Regions from separate parts of the Homo sapiens genome. Here all the other regions are reported to be linked to region 1. The links are microRNA targets in miRTarBase. Many come from high-throughput screens and were not tested one by one. Region 1 holds a microRNA gene; each other region holds the end of a gene's coding sequence.

What was found. The annotated mature microRNA hsa-miR-6507-5p reads GAAGAAUAGGAGGGACUUUGU and lies in region 1 at 4,160-4,180, shown strand. An mRNA with a match to its seed (bases 2 to 7 or 8) in the 3' UTR can be bound and repressed. Matches are read on the target gene's strand: a 7mer-m8 pairs with bases 2 to 8, a 7mer-A1 pairs with bases 2 to 7 and ends in A, and an 8mer does both.
Region 2: the mRNA of AGO4 is a reported target of hsa-miR-6507-5p. Seed matches in the 3' UTR shown: 7mer-A1 at 2,829-2,835.
Region 3: the mRNA of MAK16 is a reported target of hsa-miR-6507-5p. Seed matches in the 3' UTR shown: 8mer at 5,552-5,559.
Region 4: miRTarBase lists LUC7L2 as a target of hsa-miR-6507-5p. Seed matches in the 3' UTR shown: 7mer-m8 at 6,456-6,462 and 7mer-m8 at 6,332-6,338.

What each region holds. Positions count from the first base shown.
Region 1 is chr10:98,921,602-98,928,722 of GRCh38, reverse strand. MIR6507 (microRNA 6507) reads left to right here and starts at 4,155; the gene lies at 4,155-4,224. The region is part of intron 3 of HPSE2 (heparanase 2 (inactive)); the gene reads left to right.
Region 2 is chr1:35,852,698-35,859,818 of GRCh38, reverse strand. AGO4 (argonaute RISC component 4) reads right to left here. Exons shown (of 18, transcript NM_017629.4): 18 at 1,929-6,322. The coding sequence ends at 6,214. Among named protein-coding and RNA genes, the nearest start is that of AGO1, 27 kb to the left of the region's middle.
Region 3 is chr8:33,497,481-33,504,578 of GRCh38, reverse strand. It overlaps MAK16 (MAK16 homolog), which reads right to left. Exons shown (of 10, transcript NM_032509.4): 10 at 3,317-6,147. The coding sequence ends at 5,950. TTI2 (TELO2 interacting protein 2) reads left to right here. Exons shown (of 8, transcript NM_001102401.4): 5 at 644-831; 6 at 1,007-1,150; 7 at 4,089-4,251; 8 at 5,302-5,857. The coding sequence ends at 5,406. Among named protein-coding and RNA genes, the nearest start is that of TTI2, 12 kb to the left of the region's middle.
Region 4 is chr7:139,421,933-139,429,053 of GRCh38, reverse strand. LUC7L2 (LUC7 like 2, pre-mRNA splicing factor) reads right to left here. Exons shown (of 10, transcript NM_016019.5): 10 at 5,600-6,891. The coding sequence ends at 6,714. It overlaps FMC1-LUC7L2 (FMC1-LUC7L2 readthrough), which reads right to left. Exons shown (of 11, transcript NM_001244584.3): 11 at 5,600-6,891. The coding sequence ends at 6,714. It overlaps LOC100129148 (a long non-coding RNA gene), which reads left to right and starts at 1,528. Exons shown (of 3, transcript NR_033999.1): 1 at 1,528-1,653; 2 at 5,669-5,769. It also overlaps a transcript of KLRG2 not described here. RefSeq lists an enhancer at 1,650-2,286.

The sequences.
Region 1 (7,121 bases):
CTGAGAATGATGATTTCCAATTTTATCCATGTCCCTACAAAGGACATGAACTCATCATTTTTATGGCTGCATAGTATTCCATGGTGTATATGTGCCACATTTTCTTAATCCAGTCTATCATTGTTGGACATTTGGGTTGGTTCCAAGTCTTTGCTATTGTGAATAATGCCGCAATAAACATACGTGTGCATGTGTCTTTATAGCAGCATGATTTATAGTCCTTTGGGTATATACCCAGTAATGGGATGGCTGGGTCAAATGGTATTTCTAGTTCTAGATCCCTGAGGAATCGCCACACTGACTTCTACAATGGTTGAACTAGTTTACAGTCCCACCAACAGTGTGAAAGTGTTCCTATTTCTTCACATCCTCTCCAGCACCTGTTGTTTCCTGACTTTTTAATGATTGCCATTCTAACTGGTGTGAGATGGTATCTCATTGTGGTTTTGATTTGCATTTCTCTGATGGCCAGTGATCGTGAGCATTTTTTCATGTGTTTTTTGGCTGCATAAATGTCTTCTTTTGAGAAGTGTCTGTTCATGTCCTTTGCCCACTTTTTGATGGGGTTGTTTGTTTTTTTCTTGTAAATTTGTTAGAGTTCATTGTAGATTCTGGATATTAGCCCTTTGTCAGATGAGTAGGTTGCGAAAATTTTCTCCCATTTTGTAGGTTGCCTGTTCACTCTGATGGTAGTTTCTTTTGCTGTGCAGAAGCTCTTGAGTTTAATTAGATCCCATTTGTCAATTTTGGCTTTTGTTGCCATTGCTTTTGGTGTTTTAGACATGAAGTCCTTGCCCATGCCTATGTCCTGAATGGTAATGCCTAGATTTTCTTCTAGGGTTTTTATGGTTTTAGGTCTAATGTTTAAGTCTTTAATCCATCTTGAATTGATTTTTGTATAAGGCGTAAGGAAGGGATCCAGTTTCAGCTTTCTACATATGGCTAGCCAGTTTTCCCAGCACCATTTATTAAATAGGGAATCCTTTCCCGATTGCTTGTTTTTCTCAGGTTTGTCAAAGATCAGATAGCTGTAGATATGTGGCATTATTTCTGAGGGCTCTATTCTGTTCCATTGATCTATATCTCTGTTTTGGTACCAGTAGCATGCTGTTTTGGTTACTGTAGCCTTGTAGTATAGTTTGAAGTCAGGTAGCATGATGCCTCCAGCTTTGTTCTTTTGGCTTAGGATTGCCTTGGTGATGCGGACTCTTTTTTGGTTCCATATGAACTTTAAAGTAGTTTTTTCCAATTCTGTGAAGAAAGTCATTGGTAGCTTGATGGGGATGGCATTGAATCTATAAATTACCTTGGGCAGTATGGCCATTTTCACGATATTGATTCTTCCTACCCATGAGCATGGAATGTTCTTCCATTTGTTTGTATCCTCTTTTATTTCCTTGAGCAGTGGTTTAAATATATATGCACCCAATACAGGAGCACCCAGATTCATAAAGCAAGTCCTGAGTGACCTACAAAGAGGCTTAGACTCCCACACATTAATAATGGGAGACTGTAACACCCCACTGTCAACATTAGACAGATCAACGAGACAGAAAGTCAACAAGGATACCCAGGAATTGAACTCAGCTCTGCACCAAGCAGACCTAATAGACATCTACAGAGCTCTCCACCCCAAATCAACAGAATATACATTTTTTTCAGCACCACGCCTATTCCAAAATTGGCCACATACTTGGAAGTAAAGCTCTCCTCAGCAAATGTAAAAGAACAGAAATTATAACAAACTGTCTCTCAGACCCCAGTGCAATCGAACTAGAACTCAGGATTAAGAATCTCACTCAAAACCGCTCAACTACATAGAGACTGAACAACCTGCTCCTGAGTGACTACTGGGTACATAACGAAATGAAGGTAGAAATAAAGATGTTCCTTTTCTTTTAATTTACAGTTTGGGAGCAGACTTTTCCTGGCATGGGAAAAATAAGGATAAGTAAGGGACAAGATGTATCACAACTTTTAATTTAATGTGTCCTAATCACTGCCTTTTAAAATTTTTTTACCTTGTGGGCTTGGTGGGAAAAGTATGTCTCATGCTTATTTATTGGTGCCTTGAAGACAGGTTGATATTTGAGCATTGTTTTCAATGCTGGAGAGAGAGTGATTAGAAGGGAAGACAATAAAAAGGTATTTAGGCAGACAGGTTGGTGACAGTTTAAGGGGACCAAACTTTTTCTACTACCCAAAAAGCTAATATGAAGCATGCCTCCTTTTTCTCATGCTTTATTTAGTGCTTGCTTATCATGAAGGAGACTAAATTAGATCTGTTTCCAAGAGTGGGTAATCCTAGCTGTATTGTACCATTACCTTCCCTCAGTTGAGCTCTGTAAATTCTGTTTCACTACCATCTGGTTATATTTAATATTAATTTTGTCTCCTACTTGTAATTCTTATGTAGACCTTTCCTTCATTCCTATTGACCTTCAGACCTCCTCCCACTGGTTCAGCACCAATTTAAAAAATAAAACTTAAAAATGATGTATTTTCCAATAGCACGCATTTGTGGCTTTATAAATTCATTCAATAAGTTACTATGGCCATACAAAAAGCATGCCCTTTTGAGGTTCACTTTCTACCAGGGGGATATAGATAATAAAGAATGTATATTCAGTATTTTAAAAGGCAATGACACCTACTTCTACTGCCAAAAAGACAGAGTAAATATACTTTCCCCTATTCCTCCTATTAAGGGTAACTAAAAACTCTAAATATTATATATAAAAAACATGTAAGAAGACTCAGAGGTTGAAAAGAAGTCAGCCAAGAACCCAAGGAACAACATGATGGTGAGTTCCCTGGGTTTTCTTCTTGTCTTTAATATCCCAAACTTGGCGCTGAAGAAGCTGGAAACCTGGAAATCTCAATGAATACAAACACAAAAGACCCCAACAAAAGCCAGTTTTCTCTAGCCAAGGAGAACAATAAAGGACCAATCTAGCAAGACAGAAAGGTTTTACACAATAACCACTCCACCCTAGCCAAATGTCATAAAAAATTTGTGTCCTATTTCTCACACAAACAAAGGCTGAGTAGGGAGCCTGGACTTACCCTCATGAAACTCTAATGTGCTCCTGCAACATCCTTGCCAGGATGGTGTCCAAGTAGAGAGCCTGCACTTCATCCCCATTGGTTGATATTGAGGGAACACCCTCCCACTTCACTGCAGTATTAGTTGAGACTCTGGAGATGTGGAACTTACCCACCTGCTCAGCAATAATGAGGAGCCTCCCTTTGGTGTGAATGAAGGCTGAATGGGCAACCTGGACTTTGACATCCACCTGGCAGAAACAAAGCAGTGCCCTCACTTATACCCTGCCAGAGCAGTGTCAAAAAAAAAAAAGCCAATTAAAATAAAAGGTTTAAATAAGATCTAGGGAGGTGGAGCAAGATGGTTGGGATAGAAGCCTTCACTGTTTGTCCCTCTGGCTTGAACACCAAATCTTAACAACTATCTGTACACAGAAAAGCCCCATCACAAAAACCAACAATCAAGTGTGCAATCACAGTACTTGGATTTAACGTCATATTCACAGTACTTGGATTTAACGACAGAGGCATTGAGGAGGGCAGAAGAGATACTTTAGAATCACTGACACCACCTCACCTCCATCCCCTAGCAGTGGCCATGCAGTGCAGAGAGAGAACTTGAGCACTTTGGGGAGGGAGAGCACAGCTGCTGGGCGACTTTACATTGAACTCAGTGCTGCCCTGTTACAGTGGAGAATAAAGCTGTATTGAGCTCAGCCATTGCCTGTGCACAATGGGAGCATCTGGACCAGCCCTAGCCAGAGGGGGGTCACCCATCCCAGTGGTCCAAACTTGAGTTTCTGTGCAAACCTCACCACTTAGGGCTAAAGTGCTCTGGGGTCCTAGGTAAACTTGAAAGACAGTCTAGGACACAAAGACTGCAATTCCTAGGCAACTCCTAGTGCTAGGCTGGGCTTCAAGCCAGTGAACTAGGAGTGGAACATGACCTAGGGAGACACCAGCTGGCACAGCTATGGGAGAGTAAAGAGAAGTCATCCCTCCCCCAAACCCAGGATTGCAGCTTGTAGCAATGGAAGTGACTGTTTCTTTCCGTTTAAGGAGAGGAGATCAAAGTTAAAGGGTACTTTGTCTTACATCTTGTGGAAAGGGGAGGGAAGAATAGGAGGGACTTTGTATTGTGGTTCAGTACCATGCAAAGTCCTTCCTATTTTTCCCTCCACTTTACTTCCTTTCCCTCAACTTAGCTTCCGTAGAATAGAACATCACATAAGTTTCTAAGGTTTTTGACTCCAACTTCTGGCTCCCAGACAGCATCTCTGGACACACCTGGAGCCTACAAGAACTCACTACCCTGACGGGAAGGGCCTTGGGCAAGGCCCATTGCTGTGCTGGCTTTGGGTCTGACCCAGCACAGTCCCAGTGGTGGTGGCCACAGGGGTGATTGCATCACTACACCCCCCAGTTCCAGGTGGTTCGGCACAGAGAGAGAGAGACTCCATGTGTTTTGGGGAAAGTAAGGGAAAAGAACAAGGGTTTCTGCCTGGTAATCCAGAGCATTCTTCTGGATCTTACCCACAACCACCACAGCAGTACCTCTATGAGTGTACAAAACCCACCGTATTATTGGGCTTGGGGCCCAAGTCCCTTTGAATACCTAGAAAACCTTCCCAAGAAAGACAGGCACAAATAAGCCCAGACTGTGAAGACCACAATAAATACATAACTCTTTAATGCCCAGATGCCAAAGAACTTCTACAAGTGCCAACATCATTCAGGAAAACATTACTTCACCAAATGAACTAAATGAGGTACCAGGGATCAATCCCAGAGAGATAGATATATATGACGTTTCAGACAGAGAATTCAAAATAGCTGTTTTGACGAAACTCAAAGAAACTTAAGATAACACAGAGAAGGAATTCAATATTTTATCAGGTAAATTTAACAAAGAGATTGAAATAATTAAATAGAATCAATCAGAAATTCTAGAATTGAAAACTGTAGTTGACATGCTGAAGAATTTATCAGAGTCTCTTAATAGCAGAATTGATCAAGCAGAAGAAAGAATTAGTGAGCCTAGAGACAGGCTATTTGAAAATACACAGTCAGAGGAGACAAAAGGGAAAAAGAATAAAAAAGAATGAAGCATGCCTACAAGATTTAGAAAGTAGCCTGAAAAGGACAAATCTAAGAGTTATTGGCTTTAAAGAGGAGGTAGAGAAAGAGATAGGGATAGAAAGTTTATTCAAAGGGATAGTATCAGAGAATTTCCCAAACCTAGAGAAAGATATCAACATTCAAGTAGAAGAAGTTATAGAACACCAGGCAGATTTAACCTAAAGAAGACTACCCCAAGGCATTTAATAATCAAACTCCCAGTGGCCAAGGATAAAGAAAGATTCTAAAAGCAGCAAGAGAAAAGAAACAACACACAGTGGAGCTCCAATAGGTCTGGCAGCAGACTTTTCAGTGCAAACCTTACAGGTCAGGAGAGAGTGGCATGAGATATTTAAAGTGCTGAAAGAATAAAACTCTTATCTTAGATTAGTATATCTTGAGAAAATATCCTTTAAGCCTGAAGGAGAAATAAAGACATTCTCAGACAAATAAAACCTGAGGGATTTCAATACCATACCTATCCTATAAGAAAGGCTAGAGAGAGTTCTTCAATCTGAAAGAAAATGATGTTATTGAGCAACAAGATATCATCTGAAGATATAAAACTCATTATTACCATAGTAAGCACACAGAAAAACACAGAATAGTATAACTTTGTAGTTGTGATGTATAAACTTATCTTGACTAAAGTAGAAAGAATAAACGATGAACCAATCAAAGATAACAGCTACAACAACTTTTCAAGACATAGACAGTACAATAAGACATAAAGAGAAACAACAAGAAGTTAAAAAGCCAGGGCACTAAGTTAACATGTGGAGTTTTTTTAGTTTTCTTTTTCCGTGTTTGTTTGGAATGGTGCCAGCAAGGCCCCTACTGTCTCTGCTGCTGGCCATACTTGAAGTATATTATACCATGTATTTATGGATTCTGAGTACTAGATATCAGATCACCCCAATTGGTGCCCATGAAAGCTGGATACCTTCACCATCAGCCTTGCCAGAAAATTAATTCCACGTATACAGGGCCATGTTCTTCATTTTTTTCTGTTTACAATTCAAATCTCATATGGTTGTTTCTGACTGGTCAAGCATGCGTTACCTTCCAATGCATTAGCTGAAAGGGAATCTGAGAAATTGAGTTCTCCCTCGTATCTTCATGAAATGAGACTCATAATATGCAAGCTACCCCAGGACAGAAAGAGTGTTCAAAAGATGCTAGGTACCCCAAAATGACAAACATCCATAACAGTGTCTTGGTCTTTTATAGAACTTTGTCATTTCCCAGTCCAGCTCCCCTGAAGGGCACTATCCAATTTGGTAACCACTCTCCACATGGACATACTGAGCACTTGAAATGTGGCAAGTCCAAATTGAGGTGTGCTGCAAGTATAAAATACACATGGGATTTTGAAAACAGTATAAAATATTAAAAATCACATTAATAATTTTATACTGATTACATGTTAAAAGAATGTTTTAGATATATTGGTAATTAAATCATTTCTATTAACTAAAACTGATTTTATCTGTTAATTTTTTCTTCTTGTGGTTAGTAGAAAATTTAAAATTTTAAATGTAACTTGCATTTGTGACTTACATTGTAATTCTGTTGGACATCACAGGTCTAGAGTGCAGATCTGAGACTTAGCCCTTTCCTTACAGCTAATCACTTGCATGCAGCACACCAGTCTCTCCCCATGAATTGGCACCTACTTATTTATAGTTACTAACCCTTACTTTAAAAGAGAAACAAGAGTGTAGGTGACAGAACTCCATGAAAGATATTCACCTAATAAGCTTCTCCTGCACCTGTGGGAAGAAATCTGTGACTGCATTGATTTCAGAAAATGTCCTCATGGAGCACTGGCCTCAGCTGCTGGGGAATATGAAAGGAGAAGGTCTGCTGATAAGTGATGTCACAGTTGGGCAAAGGAGTATGTGCTAATGAACCATGCAAAGCTCCAGTCACTAAAATTGGGGGTTTACAGATGTGTT
Region 2 (7,121 bases), not on the chromosome of region 1:
GTGGAGTGGGCCCACAAGCCATTCCTGACTGATGTAACACATCCCCGAGAAATTCAGGGATGGACATGAGTATGACACAAGTGGTGGGGGGTGAGGTGGGAATAAGGCCATTTGGACACACGTGAATCATACGAAATAATGAGGGTTCTGGCTGGGTGCGGTGGCTCATGCCTGTAATCCCAGCACATAGGGAGACTGAGGTGGGTGGATCACCTGAGGTCAGGAGTTGGAGACCAGCCTGGCCAACATGGTGAAACCCCGTCTCTACTAAAAATACAAAAATTAGCTGGGTGTGGTGGCACACACCTGTAATCCCAGCCACTTGGGAGGCTGAGACAGGAGAATCGCTTGAACCTGGGGAGGCGGAGGTTGCAGTGAGCCAAAATTTCGCCATTGCACTCTAGCCTGGGTGACAGAGTGAGATTCCATCTCAATAATAATAATAATAACAACAACAAATTTTCTATAATAAAGAGGGATCCTATCTCCCAAAGAAGGAGTAAGGGAAAGCATTTGACCCAGCCTATCAGTCACTTTTTATTGATATCTTTATCCCAGCAACACTGTTTTTTTCTATTTTCCAACTACCCCATGGTTTCTGACTATAAAATGACTAATCAATAACAAGATCTTTCCTTTAATTTTACAAGGAAAAATTCTTGGAGTTGAAGCAGTATTGATACAATGCCCAGCAACACTCTGTTCCTGGGATAAAGATATCAATAGAAAGTGACTGACAGACCTGGTGCGGTGGCTCACAGCTATAATCTCAGCATTTTGAGAGGTCAAGGCGGGAGGATCGCTTGAGCTCAGGAGTTTGAGACCAGCCTGGGCAACATGGCAAAACACCATCTCTACAAAAAAATACAAAAATTAGCAGGGCATGGTGATGCGCACCTCCTGTAGTCCCTGCTACTCAGCAGGCTGAGGTGGCAGGATTGCTTGAGCCTGGGAGGTCAAGGCTGCAGGGAGCTATGATTGTGCTACTGCACTCCAGCCTGGGTGACAGAGTGAGACCCTGTGTTTAAAAAATAATAATAAAATAAAAAAAATAGGCCGGGCATGGTGGCTCACGCCTATAATCCCAGCACTTTGGGACGCCAAGATGGGCGGATCATGAGGTCAGGAAATTGAGACCACCCTGGCTAACACGGTGAAACCCCAAATCTACTAAAAATACAAAAAATTAGCCGGGCGTGGTGGTGGGCCCCTGTAGTCCCAGCTACCAGGGAGGCTGAAGCAGGAGAATGGCGTGAACCCAGGAGGAGGAGCTTGCAGTGAGCCGAGATTGCGCCACTGCACCTGGGCGACAGAGCAAGACTCCGTCTCAAAAATAAATAAATAAATAAATAAATAAATAAATAAATAAATAAATATAGTGACTGACATATAGTAGGCACTCAGTGTTAATCTCGCTGCCTCTTCCTCCATCTCATGCCAAATTAGAATGAATTCTTTGAATAATTTTTTACTCTTCTGTGTTCCCAGCACCTAGGCAGTACATGGCATGTACCCAGTTCATGATAAATGTTTGATAACTGATAAATATGGTGGAGATAGTATACAGATGGAAAAAACAACCGCCTTCTAGTAGAGTTATATGCAGAACTTTCTCCTCTGGCAAACTATAAATTCCCTAAGGAATTGTCCCTGCCATGACTTAGCAAAAGGACTTGCTGGTGAGAATTTTTCTAAAGATGAGACTGGATAGCCCCAGGTTGGATGAATTTGAGCAGCTTCTCCTCTGGAGAAGTTAAGTCTTATAAAGTGTGTGGCCACACTGCCCTCTGGAGACTGCAGATTCTTCTCAAGCATTGCTTAAATAGATCTTCCCATTAAGAGCCATATCCAGAACTCTGATCAATTTTGTAAAAGTTTTCATAAGTGAAGTGTTGCTGAAAAGCTCTTCTAAAATTCTCAAATAGAAATTTCTTTTTTAAAAGTTTTATTTTAGTTTTAATTGACACATAATAATTGTATACCAAATAGCAATTTTTAAAAATAGGGAGACCCAAGAGTTAAAAACACAAAGTTTTTCCACTGTTCTTTGTAAAATTTCTCATACTGAGGAAACTGTTTTTATAAAGCAACCATGTATGTTGCCATTACAGTGTACTGCATACTTATTAGACAATTGACAGGAAAAACAACTTTTGGCACAAGAATGCCAATTTATTCCTTTTTTGGACACATAAACACAAAATATCCCTGCAGGCCAAAAAAAATTGCAAAATTTAAACGACCATCATCTTATCTCAACATGAGGATACAACCCCTCCCTTAATAGTTTAGAAAGTACCTCGTATTGCTAGAGACATACATCCAGTCCAAATTTAATAAAATACATTTTAAAACATTACAGGTCTAATAATATAGAAACAAAAATCACACCATTAGTCAAATGAACAAATGCAAACATTTTCAGCCACTAGACGTAGAAAGAGCATGAATATGTCAATAGCAAGGCATAAGAAAATGGTTAATCAATAACAAGATCTTTCCTTTAATTTTACAAGGAAAACTTCTTGGAGTTGCAACAGTATTGATACAATGCCCTCAGCCTCCACTTTCTTAAAATGAAAGCAGAGCTACCACCTTGCTATTGAGCAAGAAAATATCACAGCACATTCACAAAAGGTCGTTAGGACAGGGTGGAGAGGGTGAGCCTTGTTAAACAGTGGATTATATTTTCCCACTTGAAGGGTAGGCAGCTTTGCCAGGTAGGCAAGCTCTGATAGAGGCTGGGCACCAGATCCTAAAACACAGACCATATAGAACATGTCTGCTTGAAAATCATCACCTTTGGAAGCAGCAAATAGAATTTACAGTAAGAATGAATATGTTCTGCTGCCCAGAACGCTGGCTGCATTAAGCCAGCTAGTTCACTTTATAAACCATTCAGGATTCAACAGCTAAGAACACCACCACCAAAACATAATTGGTTCAACATTTGGGTCATCACCACTCTCTTAATGTCCCCCCCCCCCCTTTTTTTTTTTGAGACAGAGTTTCGCTCTTGTTGCCCAGGCTGGAGTAATAGCTCACTGCACCGTCCACCTCCTGGGTTCAAGCAATTCTCCTGCCTCAGCCTCCCGAGTAGCTGGGATTACAGGCATCCACCACCAGACCCAGCTAATTTTCTGTATTTTTAGTAGAGATGGGGTTTCACCATGTTGGTCAGACTGGCCTCGAACTCTCGACCTCAGCTGATCCGCCCACCTAGGCCTCCCAAAGTGCTGGAATTACAGGCGTGAGCCACCGCGCCCGGCCAATGTCCCCACTTCTTATCCCCAAATTATTACTCTTTAGCGTTGCTACATTTAAATCTTTCACACCACATGACAGTGCCTCAACAGGCTGCATTTAAAAAACAAAACCAAAACCAAACCAAACAGCCTAAAACTACTTCTAGAGAATGCACACCTCCCATTGATTGACACATGCATAACGATTCAGTCAGTCCCGAGGGGGTTACCTATTCAAATTGTCAAGCCGAATTAAAGTAAAACTATGCATTCAGACTTGCTTGCAATCATATTGCTGCAACTCTGATTCTGCAGTGATTAGCTCTAAAGATTCACCCCTCAGCAAGTTTTTGCCAATAATCCCAGCTCTTCCAAATTTCTTTCCTTTTGTCCAAAATGACAGCATTGCACCTTTAATGGTACTATTTTCCTATAAAAATAGGCCTCCCGGCTTTTCTTCCACCACCACACTGATTTACCCCAGTGTACCAGGACTGACTGAGGTCTTACAAGCTGTATTGTTCGAGGTCGAGCGTAGAGCAAGACAAGCTAATCAGGGCTTTCGGGAACATAGCCTTGCTCCCTGCTCCATACATGCCAGGAGATGGTGAGAAGTGATGCTTCTTCTGTGCGTTATTAATAAGCAAGCCCGAGGCACTCAAGTGCAGGTGTGGTGCCCGCTGGCCAGCCAGCCAGTCACCAAGAGTTCTTCACATCTTGGATTCCAGCAAGTCCTCCTTCTCCTAAAAAAGCTTCCGTTTTTTCCTCCTCTTGGGTCCAGAGTGGCCATGCTGAAGGGTATTCTCTGTGCTCTCCCTGAACAAGTGTGAATAAAAGCAGCAGCCAAGCAGCCAGCCCCTCACCAACATGTCCTGATTTGTATTATCCAAGTGAGGTATTTGCAAAAAAAAAAAAAAAAAAGGAAAATTTTAAGAAATTAACATCTGCCATCTCTTCACTCCTGGCTATGTTGTGCTTCATTTTACAGAACTTGCTTTCATCCCACTATCTGCAGGGATTAAGGACGTCTGCACTCAGCTTAATGAGCAACAGGCCTCGATCGACATAAAACTCTCTCAGAGACCAGTCTCAGCAAACACAGGTGGCGCCGTTGATCAACAGCACATGGAAATGTAAACTTCAATGTATTTACAAGTTTATTTAAACGACTGAAGAAAAACAGTGCTTTATATTGCTGGGATTTTGAGAAGGCTAGTTTATGAGATTTGGACCGTCTCATGAGTTCAAGCAAACACCCTTCACCATCATTTCCCCACCAGCAGTTTCCAGGCAGGGGCGGCAAAATTGTTTTCACCCCATTGTGTCTATCTCTTTCCCTAGCTCCTTCCTCAGCCATATAGAGTGTGGCTCCAGGCCTTTTATCCCCTTTTCCATCCCTCACTCCTGATGTCCTGGATAGAGAATTACAAGTCAGTAAACTCTGGGCTGGGAAACACTGGCTGGTGCTACCAAGACACTATGTAACTGTTGTCCATTCACAAAGTATTATCTACACTACATACAGAATACATTTTCCCCTACATTTTAACTGATGCTCGCTTTAGAGCAACTCCCTTTGTTTGGACAAGAAAGGAATCCCATCTCCCTGTGAGTGGAATCCAGAATCTATTAAGAAAAATCAACCTTTTCCACACAGTTTTAGTTTAATAAAAGGAAGGAAAACCCACCAAGTACATTTCATGTCGAAAGAGAAGCAAAAAATTTGTACTGCAAGTAGTCGTGTGAGTTACCTTGATTCCCAGGAAAAGAAATTTTAAATGCTGGTACATTTGCAAGTTGCAGCATCACTCATTGTACCTTAAGGACTGGCAAAGCCTTTCCAATAAGGAAGCATCCTGGTTCTAGCTTATTTTAAAACAAAGTGACAGGACACCAACTGTGAATATAAAACAGGTAAAAATAATTCTTTAAAAAGGCATGGAAATATATGTCTTTTCTGACTGGTTTCAGAAATTGCCAGATTATGATATATAAGAAATAGCTGATAAAATCATACTGAAATCTCATCTAGAAAACTACATTGTTGGGGAAGGAAGAGGAGAGACCTTAAAAAATGTTTATTGCCAAAGTTAAGTTTCTATGAGAAAAGTTTAAAAATCATTTAGATTTAACAAACCACACAGCAGCATAAAATGGGCACTTTTGAAAACTTGGAAAAATACTAAAAGCAATTTTTTTTTCCAAATAGGGGAAACATGAGTACTTTTATCATGGCAGTGTTATCTCCGTCACTGTGACATGCATTACATCTGTTTATGTCACACATTCACAAAAGTCGACCAAATAAGAGAACTGCCTATTTGAATCTGCAGCCAAATATAGTGCAAATTGCCTGTCAGCATGTACTTGCACCAGCACAAGTCTGCAGAGATCAATAAGATAAAGTAGTAAAACTAATAAAACTCTGTAAAACTTTCAAAAATTAATGCTCATTAAAGGCATTTACAGTGGCAAAGTCAGAAATCTTCATTAAAAAGTCTATGGACCCACACAATTAAATAGTTACACTGAACTGAAGTAGATTGTTTGGTTTTTCTCTCCCACTTATGCATATACCCCACTCAATGACTACAGAAAAAAGGAATAATCTTCTCTTCTAAGACTAGAGGGATGCGGTGAACACCACAGCTAGCAAAATATTCCATAGAAACCCTTCTTGTAAAGTCCTTTAGAAAGTTCAGGCTGATCAGCCTTTGCACATTGAGGTAAAAATTCAGTCCAGTGCATCAGAAAAGATAATCTATTAGTATCTATTACTTTAAAAAAATGGCTCAATTTTGTTGACGCATCAGACAGTGCTGCAAAGTATAGATTCAGTGCAACTATTCCGAGCTGCTGGTAGAAGACCACCTGAAGTCAACGTGGCTCGATCTAGAGGCGGTAGGCATTTGAAACATTTTGAGGCTGCATGGGGTGCCAAATTGGTTGAGTTCTTTTTCTGAGACTCTCAGGCAAAATACATCGTGTGCTGGGTATCATGGTGGATTTGCACAGCCTTAGCCAAGGCCTGAGGATCCCGGCCGTTGCTCTGTCCTGACACATGACTGCCTTCCGCACTGTAAAGAGAATAAAACAAAACAAAACAAAGCAAAACAAACAAACAAAAAACCAAAAACAACAACAACAAAAAAACAAAAAACAGGTGTAACAGAAGACCACTTCAAACTTCACACGTTTCAAATAGCACAAACAGTACTAGATTCTAGAATATCTTAGGCTTAAGCTTTAGCTTCTTGAATAATTTGTTATGTCCTTCTAAATATCAGTTGACTCAACTGAATTTCTTTTTTTTTTTTTTTTTTTTGAGACAGAGTCTCGCTGTCTCCCAGGCTGGAGTTCAGTGGCGCAATCTCGGCTCACTGCAAGCTCTGCCTCCCGGGTTTACACCATTCTCCTGCCTCAGCCTCCCGAGTAGCTGGGACTACAGGCGCCCGCCACCACACCCGGCTGATTTTTTTGTATTTTTACTAGAGACGGGGTTTCACCATGTTAGCCAGGATGGTCTCGATCTCCTGACCTCGTGATCCGCCTGCCTCGGCCTCCCAAAGTGCTGGGATTACAGGCGTGAGCCACCGCGCCAGGCCAACTGAACTTCTTTAATGAGCTGCTGCAAGAATTAAATAATATAATGTCTGCAAAGACACAATCCTTAACAGTATCCATATAAAGATTTCCACTGCCCACTATGTCTGGCTAATTTCTTTAGGCTTCAGTCAAATGTCATTTTTCTGCACAGAAATCTTCTTTGACTTTAAGGTCCAGGTCAGAGCCACCTGGAACATGCTTTAACAGAATCCTATATTTTTCTTTCATGGTACTAAACACAATTGAAATTAAATTATTACTTGGGTAATT
Region 3 (7,098 bases), not on the chromosome of region 1:
AAAAGATTGGATACCCCTGGCCTAGGGATAAATCCTAGCACTTTAGGAAGCCAAGGCGAGTGGATCACTTGAGGCCAGGATGGTGAAACTTTGTCTCTACTAAAAAATAGAAAAGTTAGCCAAGTGTGGTGGTGCACACCTGTAGTCCCAACTAGTTAGGTGGCTGAGGCACGAGAATCGCTTGAGCCTGAGAAGCGGAGGTTGCAGTGAGCCAAGATTGCACCACTGTCCTTCAGCCTAGGTGACAGAGTGACTCTGTCTCACAAAAAAAAAAAAAAAAAAAAAAAAATGTGTAAATATCATGTATCACTAAGTCACTTAGACTTAGTGACATAGTAACAGTAGACTTAGATTCCTAAAATCTGGATTAAAGTCCCAGCTCTGCCATTTTTCCGATTTTATAAATTAGCAAAGAATGGTCCTGAGGAGAATGTATTGATTTGAGACTGTCAGATGGAGATTAAGAATGTAAAAAAGTTTGAAAATGTAAAGTAATGTGCAGTTCATATATGATTACTAGTATCTTAGAATTCTCTGGTATGGACCCTAAGGACGGTAGATTAATGAAGTTCTAGAGAAGTCAGTGAGTATTGTAAATGCAAATGGATGAACTATGCACCGTCCTTCCATTCCTTCCTCCTAGGCTGTGCTCCTGTGTCTGCTGGATTTATTCCCCATCCTGGAGAAAACCCTGCACTGGAAAGGAGATGGAGCTCGACCCACCACCCATTGTGATGAGGTCCTGCGGCTGATCCTGACCCACATGGAGCCAGAGCACCGCCTTCTTTTACGCAGGACCTACGCAAGAAACCTGCCGGCTTTCGTGAACAGGTGAGGCCCTGGGCTTTTATTTATTATTATTTTATACAGACAGGATCTTGCTATGTTGCTTGAGCTGCTCTCGAGCTCCTGGCCTCAAGCAATCCTCCCACCTCAGCCTCCCAAAGTACTGGGATTACAGGCATGAGCCACTGCACTGGCGTCATATTTTCTCTTTCATCTTTAGGTTGGGGATCCTAACTGTCCGGCACTTAAAGAGGCTGGAGAGAGTCATCATTGGTTATCTGGAGGTTTATGATGGACCTGAGGAGGAAGCTAGACTGAAGATATTGGAAACCCTAAAACTTCTCATGCAACATACTTGGCCCAGGTAATAGCAGCCTTAAGGTGCAAAACTCAGCCGATTTTCTCTTGAGAACTTGCTTGGATGTATTTAATACATTCAGTACAAAGTATTAAATGTATACTATGTATTTGAATACCTCCCATTTTCACACACCTATAGGATTTTAAACTGAGAAAATGGCATTAGAAAGATAAAATATACTATAGTTACTTGAGGTGCTCATAGTTGACTCTTTTACCAGGTATCAGTTCCAGATTCTGACAGTTAAATCGCTTCTCTTTGAAACTCTAGTATATCTTTTTTGTTTTTTTTTTTTTTTTTTTTGAAATGGAGTCTCACACTGTCGCCCAGGCTGGAGTCCAGTGGCGCGATCTCTGCCCACTGCAACCTCTGCCTCCTGGGTTCAAGTGATTCTCCTACCTCAGTCTCCCAAGTAGCTGGGATTACAGGCGCCCACCGCCAGGCCCGGCTAATTTTTTGTATTTTCAGTAGAGATGGGGTTTCACTATGTTGGCCAGGCTGGTCTTGAACTCCTGACCTTGTAATCCACCCGCCTTGGCCTCCCAAAGTGCTGGGGTTACAGGCGTGAGCCACCATGCCCAGCCTTTTGTTTTTGTTTTTGTTTTTGAGATGGAGTATTGCTCTGTCACCCAGGCCGGAGTGCAATGGCGCGATCTCAGCTCACTGCAACCTCTGCCTCCTGGATTCAAGTGATTCTCCTGCCTTAGCCTCCTGAGTAGCTGGGATTACAGGTGCCCTCCACCATGCCTGGCTAATTTTTAAAAAATTTTTAGTAGAGATGGTGTTTCACCATGTTGGCCAGGCTGGTCTCGAACTCCTGACCTCGTGATTTCCCCTCCTCAGCCTCCTAAAGTGCTGGGATTATAGGCGTGGGCCACTGTGCCTGGCTATATATCTTAAGAATGGTTTAGATTGGTGTTTTGCAGAATCTCCATCTAGGTACTCTTTGATGCCCCACAGGAAAAAAAAAAAAATTCTGTGGTCAAATAGGTTGGGAAACCATACAGGTTGTACCTCTCTCTAGATTTAGAATGCATATTAGAAGATTAAAGGTCATTTAGAAGTGTTGCAATAAAACATTTGCTTAACTTTGTTAATCCTAATGTTCTTTAAATCTAATTGAGAATAGAGTACTTCATAGCACATCATTTAACATCTGCAGAGCAGTGATCAGAATACCAATCTAGAGGCCAGGTGCGGTGGCTCACGCCTGTAATCCCAGCACTTTGGGAGGGCAAGGCTGGTGGATCACCTAAGGTCAGGAGTTCAAGACCAGCCTGGCCAATATGGTGAAACCCCGTCTTTACTAAATATACAAAACTTAGCCGGGCATGGTGGCGCGCACCTGTAGTCCCAGCTACTCAGGAGGCTGAAGCAGTAGAATCACTTGGACCCAGGAGGCAGAGGTTGCAGTGAGGTGCAATGGAACCACTGCACTCCAGACTGGGTGACGGAGCGAGACTCTGTCTCAAAATATAAAAAAAAATAATAAAAATTTAAAAAAAGCATACTAATGTAGGATATACTTGCTTGGAAATCATTCCAACTCTGGCTTGAGGTAGGTGTCAGGAACTGGAACCCAAACTGTGGAGTCAGCAGAAGCATCTCTTGCATAGCTGAAAATTGAATTCAGCCAGAGAATCTAGTGCCCCAACAACATACAGTAGCTATTCTGCACCGTATTCTCTCACTTCCTTATAAATGTGCAAGGAATCCAGAGTAACATTTCCCCATGACAACCTTTCCCTTAGTCATATTGGTAACTAGGTTGCATTTGTTTACTATCTTTCTCCCTACGGAATTATAATCTCCAGGATAACGGAAAACCACATCTATTATATTCTCCCAAAGTATGTTCAGTACCTAGTATTAGGTATACAAATATTCAAAGAATGAATGGACTGGAAGAGAATGAATCAATGGATGAATAAAATCGAATCAGATTGTCAGGTCTTTAAAGAGCAGAGACCAAGATTCCAAGAAGGGAGAGTGAATAAATGTAGGGAGGTAGAAAAGGAATATGTGTGTATGCGTATGAGGGGGTGAAGCATGGGAAATGGAAAACAGAGCCGATTATAAGTTGAATAACGAGGGCTGAGAGGCACCCAAACCATAGGAAAATGAGGAGTATTTAGATAGAGATGAAAACTTTTTTCTCCCAGTCACGCATCTGTCCATAAATATGATTTATTGTACATTTCACATTGTATTTTCACATTGTAAGTTAAATTATTTTCCACCTTTCATTAAAGTTTTTTTAGGGTTTTTTGTTTATTGTGGTAAAAATACATATAAATTTTCCATTTTAAAGTGTACAGTTCAGTGGCATTAAGTACAGTCACAATATTGTGCAGTCACTAGCATTGTCCATTTCTGGAGCTTTACCAAGGCGATGAAAACTTTTAGAAAGGTTAATAGTTACAAGTAAGTAGGCTGGACTTCACTGATGATGAGCTAGGATCTGAAATTAAATGACAGAAAATTCAACTTGACACAGTCCCAGAAGCCAAGCTCATTTCCCTCACTCTAACTTCCAGGCCTAAGATGGCATTAAAGTTAAAGGATTCAGGGCTCTCTCCAAGCATAGTTCAGTTAATAGAGTTGAAAAATAAAAGTATAGGCCCTTGGTTGGGGAGATCCTGGTTTCCCCTTCTCAGCCCATGAAGGAGCTGTTGCTTACAGTAGAACCAAGCTTCTGGAAGGAAGAGAGCAGTGTGGCAGAGGGTGTGTCTGTGTGTATAGGCAGTATGCTAACAGGAGACTTGAGGGTAAGAAATCTAGAGGCTGTCTTTGGTTCTGTTTTTAGGTCTTTTTCATTTAACTTTGACCTAAGTTCCTTAATTTAGGAAATGATAGCTTTCCACTTGACAGTCTTTGAAGTCTCTTCCAATTTTAATATCCAGATTTAGAGTATGAACATAGCTTTTCTTCCTGATTCCAGAGTTTCCTGCAGACTTGTGGTCTTACTGAAGGCCCTCTTGAAACTGATTTGTGATGTAGCAAGGGATCCAAACCTTACACCTGAGTCTGTTAAGAGCGCCCTGCTACAGGAGGCCACAGACTGCCTGATTCTCCTGGACCGCTGTTCTCAAGGACGGGTAAAGGTAAGGCAGACTGAAACTTGGTTTCAGTTGGGCCTCATTATCCTTATGTAATTCCCATGATTGATTATAATTTACTATGTATGTGCCTGACCAAGTCTGGAAATGAACATGGAGGGTTTTAGATCTCCATATGAGCCCTCTAGCCTCAAAAGAGCTTGATCTTTTTTCTTATTCATCTTTTAAAGCTATTCAGAACCATTTAGAACTAAAGGCAGGAGGATCAGCACATGTCACTGGGGCTAAGGACGAGACAGTATGGGCAAAAGCATTATGATCAAAAGTTTGTAAAATTTAAGTTCTGTTCTAGTCTTCTGAATTAAAAAAAAAAAGTAAAAATAATGGGCTATAAGCTCCCAGGAATAATAACATAAATAGAGCATTTCAGATGTTTCCAGTTTTTTAGGGACAACCATCTTTTAGGTAGATGTTTTTCCCTATTCTTAATTTATCTACATGGAAATTCTTCCTTTGGTTTCATATTCCACAAAAGTTAACTTCTCAAAGCCACAGCATATAATAGCTGTGTACTTCTATGTATTTAATAAACTACTGCCTCATTTCTTACCCCTTTTAGAAATCTTTAGTTGAAGATTGAAGGTAGCATGAAAAGAAATTCATGCCATAAGTCACTGGACAATCTACCCAGCAGGAAAAAAAAATTCATATCCTAAAAATATGTAGAGATAGTATGAATTGTTATTTTACCAGTTTATTCAAACTATTTCATCTTAGCTCTTTAATCTTGGGCAGTTTTCAAGCCCTAGATCCAACTGAATTTGCCTTGGCTGGAATTCTGCTGTTTCATGAGCCAGCAGGAGATTTGCAAGTACATTAACACAGTTTTTAAAGTAGCACCTTCAATACATGAGAGCTATATAAATTTAAAAATAATAAAAAACCAACTAATACCTATTCTGCTTAGTGACCTGTCCCTAAGTGTCATCCATTCTTTCCTCCTTTGAATATGATACCAAGGAAGAAGAATCAAGCAAAAGGGGAAAGTAATTAAAAAAAAAAAAATATCAAAGCCTGTTTGGTTTCATGTTTCAGGGTCTCCTGGCCAAAATTCCCCAAAGCTGTGAAGACAGAAAAGTGGTGAACTATATCAGAAAAGTGCAGCAGGTTTCTGAAGGCGCACCCTACAATGGAACTTAAGACTTGTATTACTTTCCCAAGAGGAAAGGATTTTCTTCCCATCCCAATTTGTATGAATGGAGTTATTTAAGAAAAAAAGATATTTTTACACGAAACTTTGTAAGTGAAAGCTGCTTTTTCCTTCCTTCCTTTCCTTTTACCTCCATAAGAATAGGGAAAGTAGAACAAGAAAAAATTGAACTCCTTCCATTTCTAAATAAAGTTTGGGAGAAAAAAGGACACCAAGTAATGTAGCATTTAAAATTTAGAAATATTTACATCCGTCATCTCATCCCAGATTCAAGAACTCATCTGTTAAGTTTCTCGGGCACAAGCTGTTACTTCAACACATATGCTATAAAAACACTCTTGTTCACAACTTAGCTTTCTTCACTCACTCCAGATTTCTTGCCCCACTGACGTGGCATAAATAATAAAAACACAAATATTGTGTTCAGTACAACACAAAAGAGCAAAAACTGGAGGTGTGTATGTGTTTAAGATAAAAAAAAAAAAAAAACAGTTCTGCATGTTCAGTCCTGGGTATAAATGCTGAAAGGGAAATCACGTGGTTTTGGCTTTGGCCACGGGCTCTGTCTCCTGCTCGTATTCTATTTCCACATAGGCTCGTTTTCTCTGCAGTGGTCCTCTCAAGGGCATTTTGCCTTTGTGTTTCGCACTAAGGGCCTTTTCTTCCTCCTCCTCACTGGAGGATTTACCATCCTGATCTTCATCACTGCTGGCATCCAGTTTATCCATATCCTATTACGGGGAGAGAAAAGATAAAGGAAGAGGGAAAACACTAGATTTCTCCAAACTCCCTTCCTTGTCCCCTCAATCTAGAACAGACTAGGGCATTGATTTGTCTATGTCTGTGTTCAGAAATTGTCCCTTTCTTTAATTTTTTTTTTTTTTTTTTTTTGAGACGGGGTCTTGCTCTGTTGCCCAAGCAGGAGTGCAGTGGCATAGTCATGGCTCACTGCAGCCTCAAACTGCTGTAGTCAACAATCCTCCCACCTCAGCTTCCTGAGTAGCTGGGACTACAGGCAACCGCCACCACATCCAGCTGAATTTTAATTTTTTTTTTTTTTTTTTTTGGAGACGGAGTCTCGCTCTGTTGCCCAGGCTGGAGTGTAGTGGTGCGCTCTCAGCTCACTGCAACCTCCATCTCCTAGGTTCAAGCGATTCTTCTGCCTCAGCCTCCCAAGTAGCAGGGATTACAGGCATGCACCACCATACCTAGCTAATTTTTGTATTTTTAGTAGACACGGGGTTTTGCTATGTTGGCCAGGCTGGTCTCGAACTCCTGACCTCATGTGATCCGCCCACCTCGGCCTCCCAAAGTGCTAGGATTATAGGCGTGAGCCACCACGCCTGGTCATGATTTTTAAAAAATTTTAGGCCAGGCCCTGTGACTCATGCCTCTAATCTTAGCACTTTGGGAGACTGAGGCAGGCGGATTACCAGAGGTCTGGAGTTCTAGACCAGCCTGGCCAACATGGTGAAACCCCGTGTCTACTAAAAATACAAAAAATTAGCCGGGTGGAGTGGCACATGCCTGTAATTCCAGCTACTTGGGAGGCTGAAGGAGGAGAATCGCTTGAACCCGGGAGGCTGAGGCTGCGATGAGCCCAGATTGCACTATGGCACTCTAGCCTGAGCTACAGAGCGAAACTTCATCTAAAAAAAAAAATTTTTTTTTTTATTAGAGAT
Region 4 (7,121 bases), not on the chromosome of region 1:
TAAGCCACCACGCCTGGCCTAAAGTGATTATTTAAATGGAAAATCTAAGAGTTCCTCCCCCTAACTTTGTGAAAATTTTCAAAAATACACAAAAGTTGAAAAACCAGTGATCTACTTAGATCTAACAGTGAACAATTTGTTACACCCGCTCTTTATGTGTTTATCAAATTGTTGAACTATTTAAAAGTAAGCTGCAGACATCCAGATGCTTCATCCTTAAATACTTTAGCACTTATCTCCTAAGAATATTCTTCTATGTAATGGCAATTCCACCATTATACCTAATAAAATTAACAATAAATTCATATTCAATCCATATCCTAATTTCTCATTATTCCAGCCTTTTAAACAAAGATCCAATCAGAGTTCAAGCCCTTTTACTGATTATCATCTCTTCAGTCTCCTTTGTGTTTCATTACCTAGTAGATTGTCATATTGATTTCAAGTAAATTAAACTTTCTGAACAAAAATATCAAGAAATCAAAAAATGTAACTGGCCAGGCAGGGTAGCTCATACCTATACTCCCAGCACTTTGGGAAGCCAAGGTGGGAGGATCACTTGAGCTCAGGGGTTTGAGACCAGCCTGGGAAACATAGTGTGATCCCATCTCTGCAAAAAAAAATTTAAAAAATTTTTTAAAAAATTAGCTGAGTGGGAGGGTGGTGGGTGGGGGCAGGGCTATTCAGGAGGCTGAGGCAGGAGGATTACTTGAGTCCAGGAGGTCAAAACTATAGAAAGCCATGTGCACCACTGCACCCCAGCCTGGGCAACATGGTGAGACCCTGTCTGAAAACAAAAAACAAAAAATGGTAACTCCTATATACCATGTTATTTGGATAACTATCGGTTTTTTATCTGTTACAATCAGCTTGAGAGATACCATGAGACTAGAATAAAAGGTGCTGGAAATGGGACAGTACTTGCAGTTATCATCCTGCTTCATTCATTTCAGTCTTTTTTGTAATGGACATTTCTGTTGCTCCCTCCCTTCTTGCCACTCCCAGCTGAATCCTACCTGTCACAATACTTTATGCCAGAAAGAGCCTTTCACTTAGAATCAAAAAGGTGTCGGCTGACTCTGTCCTATTAGTCACTCAGCATGCCTCAGCTTCCTACTCCGAAAAACGGGCATGATGGTGATAGAATATGGTCCCTTCGAGTAACCACAGGATTGCTATACAAATCAAATGAGATCGTGTGAGTTAATTTATGTTGGAAAACATGAGGCACTTCATTCATTCATTCCACATTCATCGGGCATCGTCTATGTAGGTCTCTGTGCCAGGGACAGAGATGTGAGAAAAAGGTTGCGAGAGGTTCTGGGAAAAGTTGCCTTGCTCTTAAGAGACACAAGATGAAATGGTTTCTCTTCATATGGATATAGGGCTCAGATGCTAGTCCAAGATATGGAGCTGGCATGCAACTCAATCACACGAGCTGCTAAGGTCCCTTCAGAGTTTAAGCCCATTTGAATGTATTTTCTTTTACAGGTAGCCAACAGCATCCAGAGACAGGTGTGAACAGCATTTGAGACTTGAAGAATCAGTCTCCCAAAGGAGCATCAGAGCAGATTTTGATGCTGGCACCAGCCTTTGACTTCTGCTTGGCTGGCCCCATCTCTTAGATCCCTGCTTGACTGACAGCCCAATTCTGTGAGTCTCAAAGCCTTGCTTCAGCCAATGCTGGCCATTAGCTTGTTCTGATCCCCAGATATGCCTGCAGACCCCAAACCTCTAACACCCTAATGTTTCTGCTGCTACCTGGAGAACATGCCAGTGTGCTGCCTGCTGACCCTAGAGCCCCCAAGGCCCCACTCATGCATGGCCCCAGTACTACTCTGCTGACAGACCCCTGCCTGCTCTCCCCTACTCGGCCTCTGCCCAGGGAAACCCTGTTCTCTCAGCTCTCTAACCTTTCCTAACTCCCCTGAGGGAGAAAATGCTTTTTCAAATAACAGGCAGTACAAAGAAAAATACTGAGAAAGGGCAACTTCATATTGCCTTATTTATATCCCAGGAAATTTTAATTATCAACAGTCAAGATATAATAAAATCGTGATGTAGGCTGGGCGCAGTGGCATACACCTGTAGTCCCAGCACTCTAGGAGGCTGATGCAGGCAGATCGCTGGGGCTCAGGAGTTGGAGATCAGCTTTGCCAACACAATGAAACCCTGTCTCTACTAAAACTAGTCAGGCATGGTGGTACACACCTGTCGTCCCAGCTACTCAGGGGCCTGAGGTGAAAAGATCGCCTGAGCCCAGGATGTTGAGGCTGTAGTGAGCCGAGATTGCGCCACTGCACGCCAGCCTGGGCAACACAGTGAGACCCTGTCTTAAAAAAAAAAAAAAAAAAAAAAGAAAGAAAAACAAAAAACAAACCCCATAGCATTTATTTGAAAAAACTTAAAGGTAGATAACCATTACCTAAAAACCATTTTTGAAAGAAAATCATTATTACATCAAATAGCTTCTGCTTTTTCAGATACAAAACAGACAAGAATGTGTTTCAAACTATTTAAGTCAGTACAGCATGTGGTAGTGAACTAATTCTGGACGTTCCTGGCTGTGCTTGCTGGTCTTGCGTTGGCGGCAGGCACTCAACTAGCCCAGGGCAGCAGCTAATTTACCACTTGAAGGGACATGTTTCAATGGTTTCACAAGTGGGATAGCCGTAAAAGCTGAACATCCACATTAGGCATGTGGGTTTTTTTTTAAAAATATGTAATATTTACTTAGATTTTTAAAGCTAAAAAATCCATAAATGGGCTGGATGTGGTGGCTCATGTCTGTAATCTCAGCACCTTGGGAGGCTGAGGTGGGAGAATTGCTTGAGCCCAGGAGTTGTAGACCAGCCTGGGCAATAAAGCAAGACTCCATCTCTACAATTTTTTTTTTTTTTTTTTTTTTTTGAGATGGGAGTTTTACTCTTGTCGCCCAGGCTGGGGTGCAGTGGCACCATCTCGGCTCACTGCAACCCCTCCAGGGTTCAAGTGATTCTCCTGCCTCAGTCTCTGGAGTAGCTGGGATTACAGGCATGTGCCACCATGCCCGGTAATTTTGTTTTGTTTTTTGAGATGAAGTCTCACACTGTTGCCCAGACTGGAGTGCGATCTCGGCTCACTGCAGCCTCTGCCTCCCGGGTTCAAACGATTCTCGTGCCTTAAGCCTCCCGAATAGCTGAGACTACAGGTGTGTGCTACCATACCTGGCTAATTTTTTTTTTTTTTCAGTAGAGATGGGGTTTCACCATGTTGGCCAGGCTGGTCTTGAACTCCTGACCTCAAGTGATCTGCCTGCCTCGGCCTCCCAAAATGCTGAGATTACAGGCATGAGTCACCATATCCGGCCTCTACACATTTTTTTTTTTTAATTAGCTGGGCATGGTGGTACGTGCCTATAATCCCAGCTCCTTGGGAGGGTGAAGTGGGAAGATCACTTGTGCCCAGGACATTGAGGTTGCAGTGAGCTAAGATCATGCCACTGTGCTCTAGCTTGGTGACACAGGAAGACCTTACATTAAAAAAAAAAAAAAAAAAAAAAAAAAAACCTATGAACATTTAACAATTATAATCAGCATTTATTCGGAAAAACTTAAATGATGTACATAATCATTACCTAAAAACCATTTTGAAAGAATTTACGACATCAAATGGCAAAAGTGTTTGTGGAAATTGTAATGCATACTGGGCGATGGCTCAAAAGGCCAATGTTGAAAGCTATCACTAAAAATAGATGCTTAAAATGTAACATGGAGGGGAAAGAGGGAACTTGGAAAAGATAAAGGTATATTGGTTTTAGGTCTAATAATCACAGGTAAGAAAGTCTTTGTTTAAAAAACAAGCCTGGGCCGGGCGCGGTGGCTCACGCCTGTAATCCCAGCACTTTGGGAGGCCGAGGCGGGTGGATCATGAGGTCAGGAGATCGAGACCATCCTGGCTAACAAGGTGAAACCCCGTCTCTACTAAAAAAAAATACAAAAAATTAGCCGGGCGCGGTGGCGGGCGCCTGTAGTCCCAGCTACTCGGGAGGCTGAGGCAGGAGAATGGCGTGAACCCGGGAAGCGGAGCTTGCAGTGAGCCGAGATTGCGCCACTGCAGTCCGCAGTCCGGCCTGGGCGACAGAGCGAGACTCCGTCTCAAAAAAAAAAAAAACAAAAAAAAAAACAAAAAAAAAACAAAAAACAAAAAAAAAAAAAAAAAAAACAAGCCTGGCAGGGGTAGGGCAGGGAGGGGTTGCTCATGCCTTATACTCCCAGCACTTTGGGAGGCCGAGGCGGGCCTATCACCTGAGGCCAGCAGTTCAAGACCAGCCTGGGCAACACGGCGAAACCCCGTCTCTACTAAAAATACAAAAATTAGCCGGACGTGGTGGTGCACGTCTATAATCCCAGCTACTCGGGAGGCTGAGGCAGAAGAATTGCTTGAACCCAGGAGGCGGAAGTTGCAGTGAGCTGAGATTGCACCATTGCACTCCAGCCTGGGCAACAAGAGTGAAACTCCGTCTCAAAAAAATAAAAAACATACCTATTTAAGGAGGCTTTTTTCCTTAGTTTTAGTTGGTGTTGATAAGCTCAGCAAAGGAGCTTTAGGGTAATACTTGATGACAGCAAAATGAAGGAAACCTTACTGAAGGTAAAAACTTAGCAAAACACTCCCCAGAGGGACAAAAGTTTTTTGCAAATACAATATACTTACTTATGCTTTCTACCAGTCACCAACACAGAAAGACCAAAAATTGTGTATGAGAAAGTGATATTAAGATTTGAGATTTTATTCTAATTCAGTGGCATCAATCATGTAAAGAGCCATGCGGTTGAAGTGGTCCGCTGTGGCACGCAGCCCCACAGTGATGGTGCGCTTTATGCCCTGTTCATGTTGGGGCAGCCTATACCATCTAGAAACCACAGCTGCAGTAACCATTGATATATAGACCTGTGTTACTTCTACAAGTGTTCCATTCCAACTGTACATATGCTTTAGAGTTCAAAATCTAAGTCCAGATATACTATTATAATGGGCCAGGTCCCAGACATTCTTCCTCACACCAACCAGCTAGTCCTTTTGATCTTACTCCGAACCCCAATGTACGAAATCTGAAGTGCTTGTAAGGATTTAGAACAGCACAGACTACCCGGAACAAAGGAGATACAAAACATTTCTTAGCAACCAAAAATAAAAGGGAAATGGGCCACTGAGGCAGATGGGTCTCTCAGATTAAATGCCATATAAATTGCATGTGTGGAACCAAATACAGCAGAAAACCCTCAGTTAATGAGGCATAGCTTGGTAAATTGGGAACTTGATGAGGGTTTTTAACGTAATCTGGTATCACTTAGAATGGCCTTAGTTTCCCATTCTCTCAGCACCTTCACAGAGGCCCACATGCCTCTGACATCAAATCTGTCAAACTTGGGGACAAAGGACATTAACAGTTCTTGAAAGGTGACCTTAGTTAATGATACCCACAGATACTAATTTCATTACTTAAGGAATCTGTGTTCCTCAGAATTTCCAGAATCACAAGTGATACCTGCCAATTACAGTTTAAGTTACTAACGGATATACAACTCTTCAAGGCAGAAACTTAAGTCTCATTATGTTGGTTACATATACTGTTTTTATTTGGGTTTGTTGAATGAGAATAAAAACACCCCAGTTTCTTCTGCAGGTCGAGCCCTTCTCTATAACGGTCATTACAAACAACCCTGAAGTGGCTGGAATATAGTCAGCAAGGGGCCCACATGAACAGCTCATCTGGAATCTTTGCAAGTACGTATTTATGTCCTTTGGTGCCTTGCACAGTAAGGCACTGTTAATGACGTAACAGAATAGAGGAAATGCCCACAGCAAATAGTTCTAGTGACAATTTACTAGACAAGTTACAGTTTAATAATGGTGGTGGTGATTGTTTCTTTCATTTTATTATTATTATTTTTTTACAATAAGGGTGTAGCCTTTATACTCCACACACACAAAATAAAACAAGTGCTTATTACGAAAAGAGTCCCTGCCCCCACCCCCTAGAACATCCTGAACATAGCAATTCAACAGAACAGAAAAATCAAGACGTTTGATTTCAAAATTTCAATAAAAAAGCAAAAGTATGTAATGCAACAGCTGTTCAACTTCCAACTCTAAATAGGCACCATTAAACAAAAAACCCCAGTATTTTAAATTTCTCCAGCACACATTCCAGGATCAATGCTCTGAACTGTAATCAGCTAGTAATTCATAACGGGAATACAGCCTTAGAATGGAAGCTATATTGCTTCCCTGCCCCCTTTCTCTTACAATTGGAGAGTGTAGGTATTAAGGGATACAAAGTCAGAGGAAGAATAATTAAAAAGAAAAATGCCCAAAGCTGCAGCTGTTTGGACTAGGAAGACAGCATTTTACAAACGTTCAAAAAATCCCAAGGCAAGTAACACAATTTGTTCACTAGCACTCTTACTTGAAAGAATAAAGAGATCAGCATCTTATTATATAAAACTGTACTTTCAGAACTGTATTACAGGTTCACCAGAAACTATGGATGTAGTTTTAGGCATCATCAAGGAAAACAGGTTCAGTTCAGATCAAGTTAGATACTGTACATCTAGCCTAGCTGGATCTGGTGTCTGGATCTGCTCACTGTCACCCTGAACAGCTGTGAACTAAACAATAGTACGTAACTCCGTAGGAAGCTTAAGGACTGAAGAAATGTACACAGCTAGTTAGATCTCCCCTGCTTCGCGCTCTTCAGAGCTCCTCCTGTCTTCTGATCTGCCATTAGCACTCTCATAGGACCGCTTCTTATCTTTCCGATCTCTGTCACGAGGTGATCTGTCTCTTGAACTCCTGTCTCTGTCACATGATGCTAAGTCTTGGTCTCTGAATCTTTCTTTTGAGGATCTGAAAAATATTAATTTGAGGAGCAAAATATGTTGGGAAACCCAAAAACCCAAATTAAAGAATAGGATAAATATTAAGCTCTTGATAGCTGAAGATATATAGACGAATATACCCATGACAGAGGAGTCAGTTTTCTGACAAATTACAGAGCACTACCATAGTTGATAAGGGCATTAAAACAAGAAGATGGGTGAAAAACAAATAGCAGAGGGTCAGAAGGCTAAAATAAT